Linked DNA regions of Homo sapiens. The protein of the gene in region 1 purifies or fractionates together with the protein of each later gene. This does not show direct contact. Each region holds a gene or a part of one and is shown on either strand. Other genes may lie near its edges.

Region 1 (3,500 bases):
GTCTACAAAAATCTTTAGAATTATGTAAGCATAATACATCCAATAATTTTCCATTGATCTGCAATATTGGAATTAGTAGCTAATACTTGAAATTTCTTATTGCTGCAAGCTAGTCTGGAAATTTTAAATTACAAAAGGACACTTGTTATTTCCAAAGTACAATATCTCTTCAAATAAAAAAAAAATTCCACTTGGTAAATAGTAAATAATGTCATCTCCATTTTCAAATGCCAGATTGCTAAAACATTCTTATATTTAGTAAGGAAGGCTTGATAGCCTGTGTTTTAGACAACTGAACTGCTTAGAGCTTCTTGCCTAATTTGGTCATTGGGCATCTGGCTGTGAATGACTGACATTTAGATTCCGTTAAGTGTTCGACTTCCCACTCTCATAGTACCTCAGCTGATCAAGGGGATTCTGCTTGAAAACTTCTCCTCCCTTCCTGCTCTATATGGAATAAAATCCAAAATCATCTGCTTGCTGTCAATCCTTCCCTCTCCGAAACTCGCCTATTTTACAAAAGTGATTCCTCCCATTCGCTTACCCCACACCTGGAGCTGTTTTGCATTTATCTTCAAATGCCCTGTCATGATCCTGTGTCATTCCATTTGGCATTCTCCTCTGCCTAGACAAGTGGATGTTACACAGAGTGAACATTTTGGGTTGTTACAACTAAGCACTCCTTAGTTGTGACAACCAAACTCAGTACCGACATCTAATGGGTAGAGGCCAAGGATGCTGCTAAACAGCCTATGATGCACAAGACAGGCCTCATAACCAAGTAAAAATGTCATAGTGTCCTGGCTGAGAAACCCTTGCCTAGAATACCATTCCCTTCATTCCAAGCCTGGCTAACATGCAGCTTACAAGTCACTTTGGAGACGACTTCTGAAAGTTCTTGAGGAAGAGCTGTTTGTGTCCTCAGGACAGAGCCCTTACAACACACCCCATCACTGTTTATAGTTTATATGGCTGTTATCAGTCGTATGTCTGTATCTGCCTCACTGTGCATGTGTGTGCATACAGAGACACAGACACACACACACGTGTCCCAAGGGCCCTTGCTTTGTTGATGCTTGTGCCACTGGCATATATGGCACAGTGCCTGACTCAGAGTAAGAATTCCACAAATGCTTCTGACTTGGTGGATGGATGGGTGAATGCATAAGAAACCTTGGGTTTTGCATGATCTTATCTCAGGTAAAGAAAAAGCCATCTTCTATTCACATGGATAGCTATAATTTACTTCTTAAAACCCATACTGGGAGCATAAACTAGCTCACCTTTTCCCAAAACCACAGTGATTCATGCACAGTAGTCCCAATTCTAACATTTCCTCATACTATGAGTCACTTCCTATTTATATTGACATTAATTTCCCTTTTTAAAGCTTAATTTATTGTAAAAGTCCCATAAATGGAAAGCTAGCATCAGTTATCATAAATATGACAGTAAAAAATAAACATGATGAAATTCTTGGATTCTGGCAGTCTCTACTTGATGAAGTAGCACGTGAAAGGCTGTGTCCGCTTGCTGTCCTAGAGGCTTCTCAGCATTTACCAATTAAAATCTTATGCACGTGCAGCACAATTTTGAAACACTGAGTGACATCAGTGAATGAGGAGGTGAGAACATTCAGTCATTCATACAGCAGACATTTAATGAAATGTCTTCAAAATGCCAGGCAATGGAGTATTTACTTGGGTAAAACAGTGACCAAAACGAGATACAGCCTTGCTTTCACTAAGTGATGGAGGCAGAGAGTAAAGGATCACAGGACCATATAGAGCCACCAAATGCATGAGTGCAAGTCTAGAAATGGTAGGAAGAAGTAATATGAAGAACCTTCAATAGTGCATACCAACTATCAGGTTGGTGCAAAAGTAACTGCAGTTTTTGCCATTACTTTTAATGTCATTACTTTGAGTAAAAAGAGAAGAACTTGATGACTAAACAGATTGCAGGTAGAGGGACAGCAGGGCATGGGAAAGGCAATTAAACGATGACCTTGGGAGACTGAGGAGAAGGTCCTGGTCACGTGAAATAGGAAATTCATCATAAATCACGGGTTTCAGGAGATGACAGATTTGCCTCTAGATAAATTGGGTTGGGGACAGAGAGTTGAATAACAATGTCACCGAAACTTAGGAGGGAAGTATAGATTTGTGACTCTGTTCAAATTCTTTTTTTTTTTGAGACTGAGTCTCACTCTGTCGCCCAGGCTGGAGTGCAGTGGCACAATCTCGGCTCACTGCAAGCTCTGCCTCCCGGGTTCACGCCATTCTCCTGCCTCAGCCTCCCGAGTAGCTGGGACTACAGGCGCCCGCAACCACGCCTGGCTAATTTTTTGTATTTTTAGTAGGGATGGGGTTTCACCGTGTTAGCCAGGATGGTCTCCATCTCCTGACCTCGTGATCCGCCCACCTTGGCCTCCCAAAGTGCTGGGATTACAGGTGTGAGCCACCACTCCTGGCCAACTCTGTTCAAATTCTTAACTGCTAAGCCCCACTTCCCTCATCTGTGAAATGGGACTAAAAGTACCATCTACCTTATAAATGTGGTCTTTCTTTTGTATACATATTACATGCTGGCACTGTTCCAAGGGCCTTGATTTAAAAACAAAAAACAACTTTTATTGAGTTTGAGCACTATGTGCCCAGCACAGTGCTATGCACTATGCATTATTTCAGTTAGTCCTCACAATAATCCTATGAGGCAGGTGGGGTTTTGAAACCCCATTTTACAGATGAGGAAATGGGCTTAGGAAGGTAAAGGAGCTTGCCATGGACACCCAGCCATAAGAGGCAGATAATAGACTTGAACTCAGGTATGGTCAAGAATCTGTACCGTTAACCAATCCACTACGTGAGTGCCCTCTAAGATGGTAAGAGTACTGCACACATGCAGCATGTGCACAGGTCAAGCGGGGGAAGCAGGTGGAAAGCCGGACTTCAAGTGGACAAGGAAGGAGTGGAAGTATTTTTTGCTTGTTTGTTCTTGAGACAGGGTCTCATTCTGTCACACAGGCTGGACTGCAGTGGCACGATTATGGCTCACTGCAGCCTTGACCACCCAGACTCAGGTGACAGGTGATCCTCTTACCTTAGCCTCCTGAATAGCTGGGATTACAGGCATGCACCACCACGCCTGGCTAATTTTTTGTATTTTTAGTAGAGACAGGGTTTCGCCATGTGGCCCAGGCTGGTCTCAAACTCCTAGGCTCAACTGATCTGCCTGCCTTGAGTGCTGGGTGCCCCTTGGAGAAGACTGGTGTGGAACTCAGGTAAAGTATAGTAACTTAAACATTTCTTTACAATTCATGTTCAGGGTAATGAGACAAGGAATATCTGCCCCACTGGATGTTGAGAATGGGAATCCAGATATACTTTCTGTGTAACACAGTCTATATAGAGGTATGCAGAGACTACTGTGGGTGATCAGAGAAGGGATTGAGAACTGGCTCTCAGAGGGTAAGGATTAGCCTGTTATGTAGGAGAACA
Region 2 (3,500 bases), on another chromosome or scaffold:
GCATACCGTAAGGCACAGCTTCTTCCCCCCGGCTCATGACTCACCATCTGACGCTATTCCTATCCCCTTCCTCCCCGGGACCTTTTCCCCTTCCTCCCTGGGACCTTTTCCCCTTCCTGTTTAAGAAGCCAGGGCTGCCTGGAGGAAGCTTTGTCAGATCTAGTGGAATGTGACCTCCCTGGAATATGTGCCCAGGGGTTTGTCTAAGCAGTTCCAGGCTATGGCCTTTACTCCATCTGGTCCCCATCCCTCTTATCTCTCTCATGTGTGGCTGCACCTGGACGCTTGGACCATAGCTGTCACAGCCCCCTGGGGAGGAACCCACTCCTTGGCCATGTCAGCCTGTGCAATGCAAGGCTCTTGTTTGATCTGTGTGCTGACAGAAAGCCCAGCTTCCTTAAGAACTTTTCATGTGGAACACTTTGGTTTTGAGAAGAAAATAAATCAGAAACCATTAAAAATCTATGATTCACTCTCATTATTAACCAAAACTTGTTCACCTTTATTTCATGTATTATGGGATCCAGCAAAACCCATTTATGGGACCAAAGACCCTGCCTGTATTGTTATTACTAATGTGTATTAGTCTGTGAAAGTCACCAAATCCCCGCCATGTTTTGATGCCTCTCCTTTCTTTTCTGTTCAGTGCCACCGTCCTTTTTTCATTTTCACGTAGCCTTGGCTTGCCTGGTCTCAGCATGCTAGGTTGCGGTTCATCCCTGCATTGCCTTAAAAACATAGTTTTCTGCATTGACTTCTTTTTCTTTTAAAAATAAAACTTCTGGCCGGGCGCGGTGACTCACGCCTGTAATCCCAGCACTTTGGGAGGCTGAGGCGGGTGGATCACAAGGTCAGGAGATCGAGACCATCCTGGCTAACATGGTGAAACCCCATCTCTACTAAAAATACAAAAAATTAGTGGGGTGTGGCGGTGGGCACCTGTAGTCCCAGCTACTCGGGAGGCTGAGGCAGGAGAATGGTGTGAACCCGGGAGGCGGAACTGGCAGTGAGCCGAGATCACGCCACTGCAGTCCAGCCTGGTCAACAGAGCAAGACTCCGTCTCAAAAAAAAGATAAAATAAATAAATTAAAACAAAACAAAACAAAACTTCCCAGGGGAGGGATTCAGTAAATTACAGAGCTTCCTTGGAGTGAAATTTCAGGTAATCACTAAAGCAAGTGGAACCGTGGAGGTGTGGGGGAGACAATTTTACCTGAGAAGTAAGCAAAACAAAATAACCAACCAGAAATCACTGTTGTCATTTGTTGTGATTATTGCCATAACCATGTCAGCTGTAAGGGCAAATGCAAAGAAGTTTTTTAGGGGAAAAGACACTGTCAACTTCACAATGATGCTTTCAGTGTTTGGATTTTACACACTTTTTAGTCAAATAAGGATTTTCTTTGTAGCCACACCAGATGCGAGGAAGGGGAGGGCAGAGGCCCCAGGTGTGGGGCAGAGCTTTGATTGTGTTACCTTTCACCTTCATCGGACCTCTTTTCCTCAGGAGCAGACACTTAGCAGCTGTTTTTTGTAAAGGGGTGAAAAGGGGAATTCACTTGCAAGTTTCTCAGGGAGGAAGAACACTGCACACTAGGAAGTGTTCTCTTGTGGCAAGTAGAGGACCACACCAAGGTGCCGAGGGGGCCACAAAGGAGAGGACGCCACTCTCCTGTCTGAGGAGGCTGGAAGGAGGCGTCTCCTTTGAGGAGGCTGGGAAGAAGAGCAAGCTCCCTGCTAAGGAGGGCCAGGGCTGGGTATGTTGTGCCTGGCAGTGGGGCCAGAGGGCTCCACTGAGCCAGCCATGTGGGTTGGACAGAGGAGGCACCGTGGCCCGGAGATACCTTCACTGCCATTTCCTTTTTGTTATTATTTTCTTTAACACATCAAAAGGGCAGGTCCTCTCTCTCTCTCTCTCTCTCTCTCTCTCTCTCTCTCTCTCTCTCTCTCTCTCTCTCTCTCCCCTTTTTTCTTTCTCTCCTTTTCTCTTTCTCTCTCTCTTTCCTTTCTTTCTTTCTGATTGGGGGTGGGGGTCTTGCTGTGTTGCCCAGACTTGTTTCCAACTCCTGGGCTCAAACCATCTTCCCACCTCAACCTCCCGAGTCACTGAGGTTACAGGCCTGAGCTACTACGCCTAGCTGTTTTCTTCTTAAAGGGCTGCCTGGGTTGCCAGCTTAGCATCTCTGCACATGGGAGGTAGGGGGCGGGCCTTGATTTCTCTGCATGGTAGATGCCGGCAGACTTAGCCTGGCATCACTATGAATGATGCCCTATGCTGGGCAGCCATGGCCCTGTCTTGGAGCCCCTAACAGTTCTGGCTTTTGTGGTTGCAGAACCAGTGCTGTGGCGCATATGGCCCTGAAGACTGGGACCTCAACGTCTACTTCAATTGCAGCGGTGCCAGCTACAGCCGAGAGAAGTGCGGGGTCCCCTTCTCCTGCTGCGTGCCAGATCCTGCGGTGAGTTGGCTTGTGCTGGGGCACAGGGAGCCCGCCCTTCCTGAAGCCCAGAAGCTTTCCTGACTCCTCCAGTGCTCTAGGATACTTCTCTGTCATGGAGGTCTGAGGAGCAGGTGTGCTTTCTCCACACCCTCCTCAAGGCTGCCTCAGCTCTGAAATCCGATATGTGTACATTCTAGGAACACTGCTTGCATGACCCACCCTGGCCTTGGTGTTCTGGGTGAGGCAGGAGAAAAACAGTATTATTTCTACCTGGAGGGCTGTCACTTGCAGCTGGCCAAGAGCTATGAGTGAAATAAGGCCCGCTTATCCCTCTTCCCTGTCCTTTTTCTGGAGCAGATTCCTAGAACTCAACAGTGCACGGGGGCTGTGGGTACACATCATTAACTGGGGAACAGTAGTGGAGAATTATTTTCTTTCTTTTTCTCTTTCTTTTATTTTTGAGACAGGGTCTTGCTGTGTCGCCCAGGCTGGAGTGTAGTGGCATGATCTTGGCTCACTGGAACCTCTGTCTCCTGGGTTCAAGCGATTCTCCTGCCTCAGCCTCCTGAGTAGCTGGGATTACAGGTGCACGCCACCACACCCGGCTAATTATTTTCTGTTTGTTGTTGTTGTTGTTGTTGTTGTTGTTTGGTTTTATTTTAGAGACAGTGTCTCACTCTGTCACTCAGGCTGGAGTGCAGTGGTGCGATCTCAGCTCACTGTACAACCATTGCTTCCCCGGGCTCAAGCAATTCTCCAGCCTCAACCTCCCAAGTAGCTGGGACCACAGGCTTGAGCACCACACCTGGCTAATTTTTGTATTTTTTGTAGAGATGGGGTTTCACCATGTTGCCCCGGCTGGTCTTAAACTCCTGGGCTCAAAGCGATCTGCCCATCTTAGCCTCCCAAAGTGCTGGGATTACAGGTGTGGGCCGCTGTGCCTGTCCTGTCCTTTCTTTACCTATTGGCATTCCCAATCCAAGGCCAACGTCCTTGGGTTCCAGAAGCTGGGTTCTTGGGGTGAACTGTGAAGGAGCTCTGAATTTTGCCTGAACTGA
Region 3 (3,500 bases), on another chromosome or scaffold:
GGGGTTGTTTTCAGGAATGTAAGCAGAGTAGGAAGCATGAGGGAAAGTGGGTGGGTTGTCATTGATGTCCATCACTTGCAGTGAAATATGAGTTTCTGTAGACAGTGGAGGAGTTCCCTGGTCAGTGGCAGTTACAGTGATGTTATATTCTGAGACTTCTTCCCTGTCCAGTGTTCTGTGTGTCAACAACCGATAATAATTTCCATAGGTCTTTTCAAGTGTGAATGGCAGATTATCTGGAATAGAACATGTGACTAGGCCATTTCCTCCTGAGTCACTGTCATGCACGTTGAAAAGTGCAATTACTGTACCCGGGGAAGAAGATTCCTGGACTGAGCTGGTGAGAGATGTAACTGTGACTTCTGGTGCGTTGTCATTTTCATCCAGAACTGTCACCAGTACCTTGCTTCTAGCTCGGAGACCAGGCCCATCATGGGCTTCTACATCTATGTCATAGAATCCAGAGTCCTCATAATCTAGACCCCCCAATATTGTTATATCCCCACTCAGAGAATTCAACTGAAATAGCTGTGATATTTTGTCTCTTACTTTCCGGAAAGAATACGTCACGTCTCCATTGGCTCCTTCATCTGGATCAGTGGCTTTTACGGTGAGTAGCCGAGTGCCTACAGGAACGTTCTCACGAACACTTACGTGGTACTCGGGCTGAGTGAACACGGGAGCATTATCGTTGGTATCCACAAGTATTATGAGAATCCTGGCAGTGCCAGAGCGAACCGGGTCACCTCCATCGAAGGCCGTGAGAACGAGGTGGTGAACCGCCTCTTCCTCGCGATCTAGAGCGCGTTCCAGCACCAGCTCTGGGTACTTAATCCCATCGGCCCCACTTTGCACGTCCAGGGAAAAGTAACCGTTTGAGTTGAGCTGGTAACCCTGCAGGGAGTTTACACCTACATCCGGATCAAAAGCTTCAGGAAGAGGAAATCTTGCCCCAGGATTTTCATTTTCAGCAACTTTTATTTCCCTCTGTTCTGTCCCAAAACTGGGTGGGTTATCATTAACATCGATTATTTCCACCTCTACCCGCAAAATCTTCACTGTATCTTCTAGAAGAATCTCCAGGTTTGTCACACAGTTTGGAGATCTGTCGCAGAGCTCCTCCCTGTCTATCCTACCCGCGGTGACCAAGGTGCCGCTGCGCGGGTTCAGGGCGAAAAGCTGCGTCCTACCTCTGGAGACGATGCGGACTCCGCGCTCCGCCAGCTCCCGGGGCGCCAACCCCAGGTCCTTGGCGATGTTGCCCACCACTGAGCCTTCTTCCTGCTCCTCAAACACCGAGTAGAGAATCTGTTCGGCCCTGATTTCCACCAGAACCCCCAGGAGAAGGCAGATCTGGAGCAGCCGGGTGTGGTCTGGGCGAGCAGGAGGCGCCGCCATTACAACCCCGCCGCGGAGTCGCCTGTGCTTCGGTTTTCCCTCTGTCGAGGCCTGAGGAGCCCCAGGATCTTCTGGGTCCAAAATAAAGTGCATTCACAGCCAGAGCTCTCAGGGCTTCCGCTTGAAGCTTTCATAAAGCTCCAGAGCCAGTGCTTTGTGCTGCAGAAATCTTGTGATTCTGATTAAATTTCTGGTTTGTCTTTTCCCCCTGATTGGTGAACAGCGACACCCAGAGTCTTAACCTGTTACTGCAATTTATTCTTGGTTAAAAAAAGTTTATTTTTTATACACTTTTCTATTCCTATTTCTCCCAAGATAATAAAGTCAAATTCCTGTTTTTGATTTGCAATGAAAATTCAAGAATGATCCAAGTCTTCCTGTACAATAAACTTTATGAAGTTATTTATTTTCTTAGAGAAAATATGACGATTTTTTTCCTAAGATGTGTTCTTCCTCTTTTCAGTTTTCACATTGTTCATCCCCACAGCCCATTCTCAGTATAGCGTATTGTGTGAGGGACATAATTATCTCTCCTAAAGACAAAGGTGGACTTGAAAAATGGATGAGACAGATAAGTGAAAAGACAGTGGGACAGGAACTTGGAGGTCTGGCTTTAGTCCCAATTTATGCAGTAACAAGTTTCCTCACAGGAGTTGACCCTCTAGAACCTGGGGCAATGCTTCAATTCCCTTGCAAAAAACTCACCTACTGTTCAAGAGTTAGCCTTACCCTGTACAAATGAGATTGACAAATAGGATAATAGGTTTGGGAAGAGAATTTGCTCCTTAATTTTGTGTACAGTAGATTCTTGGCCACAAGCTATGCATATGACTATCTTGTTCACAATGTGTTCTCAATCTTTAGAACAATACCTTTCATAGAGTAGTAATTTTTATGAAACCTTTCAATGTTTCATGAATGACCAGTTCAAATGCAAAGCCTAAAACAATGGGTAAATAACTCTGATCTTAAAAATAAAAAAGAAATAAAAAGAAAAGTTAGACTGAATAACTATAAAGTGCAGATAATAGTTTAGTGATTTTTTCACATGACACATTCAGTATTATTTTACAATTTCTAACTTTACTTTAGCTCTCATTTTAGAAATAGCCAGTAAAAGGAAATGTTTTGGTAGCCGAACATGGATTATCATTGCATGTGCCATCGCTTTCTTTCTTATGAATACTTACAGTAATTTACTAATCTGTGAAAATTTGAGATAAAGCAGTACATCAGTTCTTAAGCTTATTCCTCACTTAACAATTAGCAGTAGAAATGACTCATACAAAAGGGCATTAGCTATACAGAATTTAAAAACCCTCAGACTTTGAGAGAGTAGATTAAACGTGTTTTTCACAATCCTCAAAGACCGCACAAACTGCGGATGATTGAGAGGTGAAATAAGATGTTTGGAAATAAATTTGACAGTATGCATTAAAAAAATCTCAACATGTTTATAGATTTAACTAATTCCTCAGAAATCTACACTAAAGAAACAAGAAGTATGGAAAACGCTTTATAAACCCAAATGTTCATTACATTCTTTGTTTTAATAGAGACAAAATAGAAAGAGCATAAAAACAAATAATTTAGGAATGGTTAAGAAAATTATGAAATATCATTGACTGAAATTATAGAGTGGGAATAATATTGACTCAAAGTTAGTGATGCAAATATAAAATTGGACAATATTTGCTACTTGTGATGAGACAAAGTGTTAAGAGTCTTAATAATTGGAAGGCTGTATTAAACATACATGTTGCTGCAAAAAGACAAACTAGAATGTAATTGATGAAGATTACATTAATTACATAATTACATTAATACATAATTACATCAATTACATAATTAATGTAATTGATGAACTTTAACTTGGGTGGGAAGAACTCTAAATACATTTATAAAGAGCTAAGAATAAAATGACTTGAAAATATAGTATTGCATATCAACTAAGAAAAGGCACTGCTATTACTAAGTGTTAACATCTAGGAAACAGGTCTCTTTAGCAAGATTTGCCAACCATACAGAAATGCCAACAGTAAAGATTGAAAATTAAATTGCCAAGACTACTGAGCAATCAAGAAAGCAATCTCCATCTATCT
Region 4 (3,500 bases), on another chromosome or scaffold:
TCACCCAGGCTAGAGTGCAGCGGCAAGATCTCAGCTCATCACAACCTGTACCTCCCAGGTTCAAGCAATTCTCCTGCCTCAGCCTCCCAAGTAGCTGTAACTACAGGCGTGTGCCACCATGCCTGGCTAATTTTTGTATTTTTAGTAGAGACGGTGTTTCACCATGTTGGCCAGGCTGGTCTTGAACACCTGACCTCAGGTGATCCGCCCGCCTTGGCCTCCCAAAGTGCTGGGATTATAGGCATGAGCCACCACATCCACCCAATTTTTTGTATTTTTAGGAGAAACGGGGTTACGGCCATGTTGGCCAGGCTGGTCTTGAACACCTGACCTCAGGTGATCCGCCCACCTCGGCCTCCCAAAGTGCTGGGATTATAGGCATGAGCCACCACATCCACCCAATTTTTTGTATTTTTAGCAGAAACGGGGTTACGGCCATGTTGGCCAGGCTGGTCTTGAACTCCTGAGCTCAGGTGTTCCGCCCACCTCGGCCTCCCAAAGTGCTAGGATTACAGGTGTGAGCCAATGCACCCAGCCAGGTTTTTTTATTTTTTTAAATTAAATTTTTGAGACAGGTTCTGGCTGTGTCGCTCAGGCTGGAGTGAAGGCACGATCTCAGATCACTATAACCTCTGCCTCCTGGACTCAAGAGACTCTCCTGCCTCAGCCTCCTGAGTAGCTGGGACTACAGATGTGCGTCATTATGCCCAGCTAATTTTTTTGTATTTTTTGTAGATGGGGTTTCACCATGTTGCCCCAGCTGATCTCCAACTCCTGAGCTCAAGCAATCCACCCACAACAGCCTCCCAAAGTGCTGGGATTACAGGCGTGAGACACCGCAACCAGCTGATTTTGACTTTATTGTTGGGTCAGCAACAGAATGCCTGACAAAGACTCTGACGGAACAGGGAGATAAGTTAATGTTAAGCCAAGGTGAATATATGATAAAGGACTAATTTTATAAGTGATCCATTCATTAGCAAATATTTTCAGGCTATGAAGACATCTGCTTCCCAAACATGACTCTGTCCAGTGTAGATCTCAACTAATGAATATAGCACTTGGGTATTAAGGGCATTCTCCAGGCTTACCAGATATCATGGTTTCTTACCCAGTTTGTACTCATCGTTACAACCTTGACTTCGTAAACGCCTAATCAGCTCCAATTTAGCTAGATGTGGTCCTCGGAGATGGCGAGAACTTTTAGATTCTTCCGTTATCCGATCTTCTATAAACTTCACAGCTTTTTCTGCAGAATAATGTACTTCTCCTTCTAAAGAGCTGAGGAAAAGCACATGAAAAAGGAATTTTATTGCCTCTATTGTCCTTCCCGAAGCTTAAAGTCAAGCCAAACTCATTTAAAAAGAGAAAAACGACTTTGATAATATAAAATAATAGAAAAAGGAATAAAAGAGAACTATGAACATATTCTAACAGATAACATGTTATAAGATTACTCTCAATTTTGGCATTTGATTACTGCAGCATAACTTACCTTTTTAAAAAAAGAATGCATAATTTTGTATATATGAAATACTGCCTGGCTGGGCGTGGTGGCTCACGCCTGTAATCCCAGCACTTTGGAAGCCTGAGGTGGGCGGATCACTTGAGGTCAGGAGTTCGAGACCAGCCTGGCCAAGATGGTGAAACCCCATCTCTACTAAAAGTATAAAAAACTAGTCGGGCGTGGTGGCATGCACCTGTAGTCCCAGCTACTCAGGAGGCTGAGGCAGGAGAATCGCTTGAACCCAGGAGGGAGAGGTTGCAGTGAGCTGAGATCACGCCACTGCACTCCAGCCTAGGTGACAGAGAGAGATTCCATCTCAAAAAAAAAAAAAAGAAAAGAAAAAAAAATTGCCTAATAAAAATATAAGGCTGGGTGTGGTGGCTCACACCTAAAATCCCAGCACTTTGGGATGCTGAGGTGGGAGGACTGCTTGGGCCCATGAGTTTGAGACCAGCCTAGGCAATGCATGGAGACCCCATCTCTACAAAAAATTTAAAGCAGCCAATTGTGGTGGCACACACCTGTAGTCTCAGCTACTTGGGAGGCTGATGTGGGATGATCACTTGAGCCTGAGAGGCAGAGATTACAGTGGGAGGCAAGATTACACCACTGCACTCCAGACTGGGTGACAGAGCAAGACCCCATCTCAAAAAGAAAAAAAGGCCAGGCACGGTGGCTCACACCTGTAATCCTAGCATTTTGGGAGGCCAAGGCAGGTGGATCACTTGAGCTCACGAGTTCAAGATCAGCCTGGGCAACATGGTAAAACCCCATCTCTACAAAAAATACAAAAATTAGCCAGGCGTGGTGGCTCATGCCTGTAGTCCCAAGCTGCTTTTGGGGCTGAGGCAAAAGGATCACTTGAGCCCAGGAGGCAGAGGTTGCAGTGAGCCAAGATCACACAACTGCACTCCAGCCTAGGTGACAGAGTGAGACCCTGTCTCAAAAAAAACAAAAATTAAAAATTAAATACACACACACACACACACACACACATATATTTTTGAGATGGGGTCTTGTACATTTTATTGCTTTAAGAATGAAAACTGAGAAAAATTAGGTAACCTAGTTAATATTACGAAGCAAGCATCAGCTCATAACTGTCATCTTGAATTTTACTTCTGTATTAATTTTTTAAAAGATCCCATTTATTCACTTTTTTTTGAGAGGGAGTCTTGCTCTGTCGCCCAGGCTGGAGTGCAGTGGCACGATCTCGGCTCACTGCAAGCTCCGCCTCCCGGGTTCACGCCATTCTCCCTCCTCAGCCTCCAGAGTAGCTGGGACTACAGGCGCCCGCCACCACGCCCAGCTAATTTTTTGTATTTTTAGTAGAGATGGGGTTTCACCATTCACAGGATGGTCTTGATCTCCTGACCTTGTGATCCGCCCGCCTCCACCTCCCGAAGTGCTGGGATAACAGGCGTGAGCCACTGTGCCCGGCCCCATTTATTCATTTAACTCTAGATGCCTATAAAAAGGAAAAAAAATTTATTGTAGTACTGCCTACAATAGCCAATAACAAAAGGACAAAGGAAAAAAAAAGAGATCTTCAAAAATCCAAGTATCATCAATAGGGAAAATGCTAAATGAATTATGGTACATCTGGAGTACTCTTAAGCCACTGGGGGGAAAAAAAATGAAAGAGATCTACATGTACCAGAAATGAAAGATGTTCAAGATATATTTCAAGGCTGAAAAATAACAGGTTGCAAATCGTGTCTAATACAATCCCATTTTTATATTAAATATAAGAATAATTAAGCCGGGCGCAATGGCTCACACCTGTAATCCCAGCACTTTGGGAGGCTGAGATGCTGAGATGGGTGGATCACCTGAGGTCAGGAGTTTGAGACCAGCCTGGCCAACACGGTGAAACCCCGTCTCTACCAAAAATACAAAAAGTAGCTGAGCACGGCGGTGGGCACCTATAGTCCCAGCTATTCGGGAAGCTGAGGCAGGAGAATCGCTTGCTTCTGGGAGGCAGAGGTTGCAG

What was found. Proteins that work in one complex are often made in the same cells at the same time.
Region 2: the proteins of CDH2 (region 1) and TSPAN14 fractionate together in Homo sapiens (co-fractionation; one large-scale study listed by BioGRID). This does not show direct contact.
Region 3: the proteins of CDH2 (region 1) and PCDHGB1 purify together in Homo sapiens (co-immunoprecipitation; one large-scale study listed by IntAct). This does not show direct contact.
Region 4: the proteins of CDH2 (region 1) and NAA25 purify together in Homo sapiens (co-immunoprecipitation; one study listed by IntAct). This does not show direct contact.

What each region holds. Positions count from the first base shown.
Region 1 is NC_000018.10:27,995,631-27,999,130, forward strand, and holds part of CDH2 (cadherin-2 isoform 1 preproprotein), read right to left. Parts: intron 1-3,500. UniProt on the Homo sapiens protein: Calcium-dependent cell adhesion protein; preferentially mediates homotypic cell-cell adhesion by dimerization with a CDH2 chain from another cell. Cadherins may thus contribute to the sorting of heterogeneous cell types.
Region 2 is NC_000010.11:80,509,810-80,513,309, forward strand, and holds part of TSPAN14 (tetraspanin-14), read left to right. Parts: intron 1-2,334; coding exon 2,335-2,460; intron 2,461-3,500. UniProt on the Homo sapiens protein: Part of TspanC8 subgroup, composed of 6 members that interact with the transmembrane metalloprotease ADAM10.
Region 3 is NC_000005.10:141,353,099-141,356,598, reverse strand, and holds part of PCDHGB1 (protocadherin gamma-B1 isoform 1 precursor), read right to left. Parts: intron 1,579-3,500; exon of another isoform or gene 1,492-1,578; coding exon of another isoform or gene 1-1,491. Other genes in the region: PCDHGA4 (protocadherin gamma-A4 isoform 1 precursor), read right to left, coding at 1-1,491. UniProt on the Homo sapiens protein: Potential calcium-dependent cell-adhesion protein. May be involved in the establishment and maintenance of specific neuronal connections in the brain.
Region 4 is NC_000012.12:112,070,784-112,074,283, forward strand, and holds part of NAA25 (N-alpha-acetyltransferase 25, NatB auxiliary subunit), read right to left. Parts: intron 1,282-3,500; coding exon 1,112-1,281; intron 1-1,111. UniProt on the Homo sapiens protein: Non-catalytic subunit of the NatB complex which catalyzes acetylation of the N-terminal methionine residues of peptides beginning with Met-Asp, Met-Glu, Met-Asn and Met-Gln. May play a role in normal cell-cycle progression.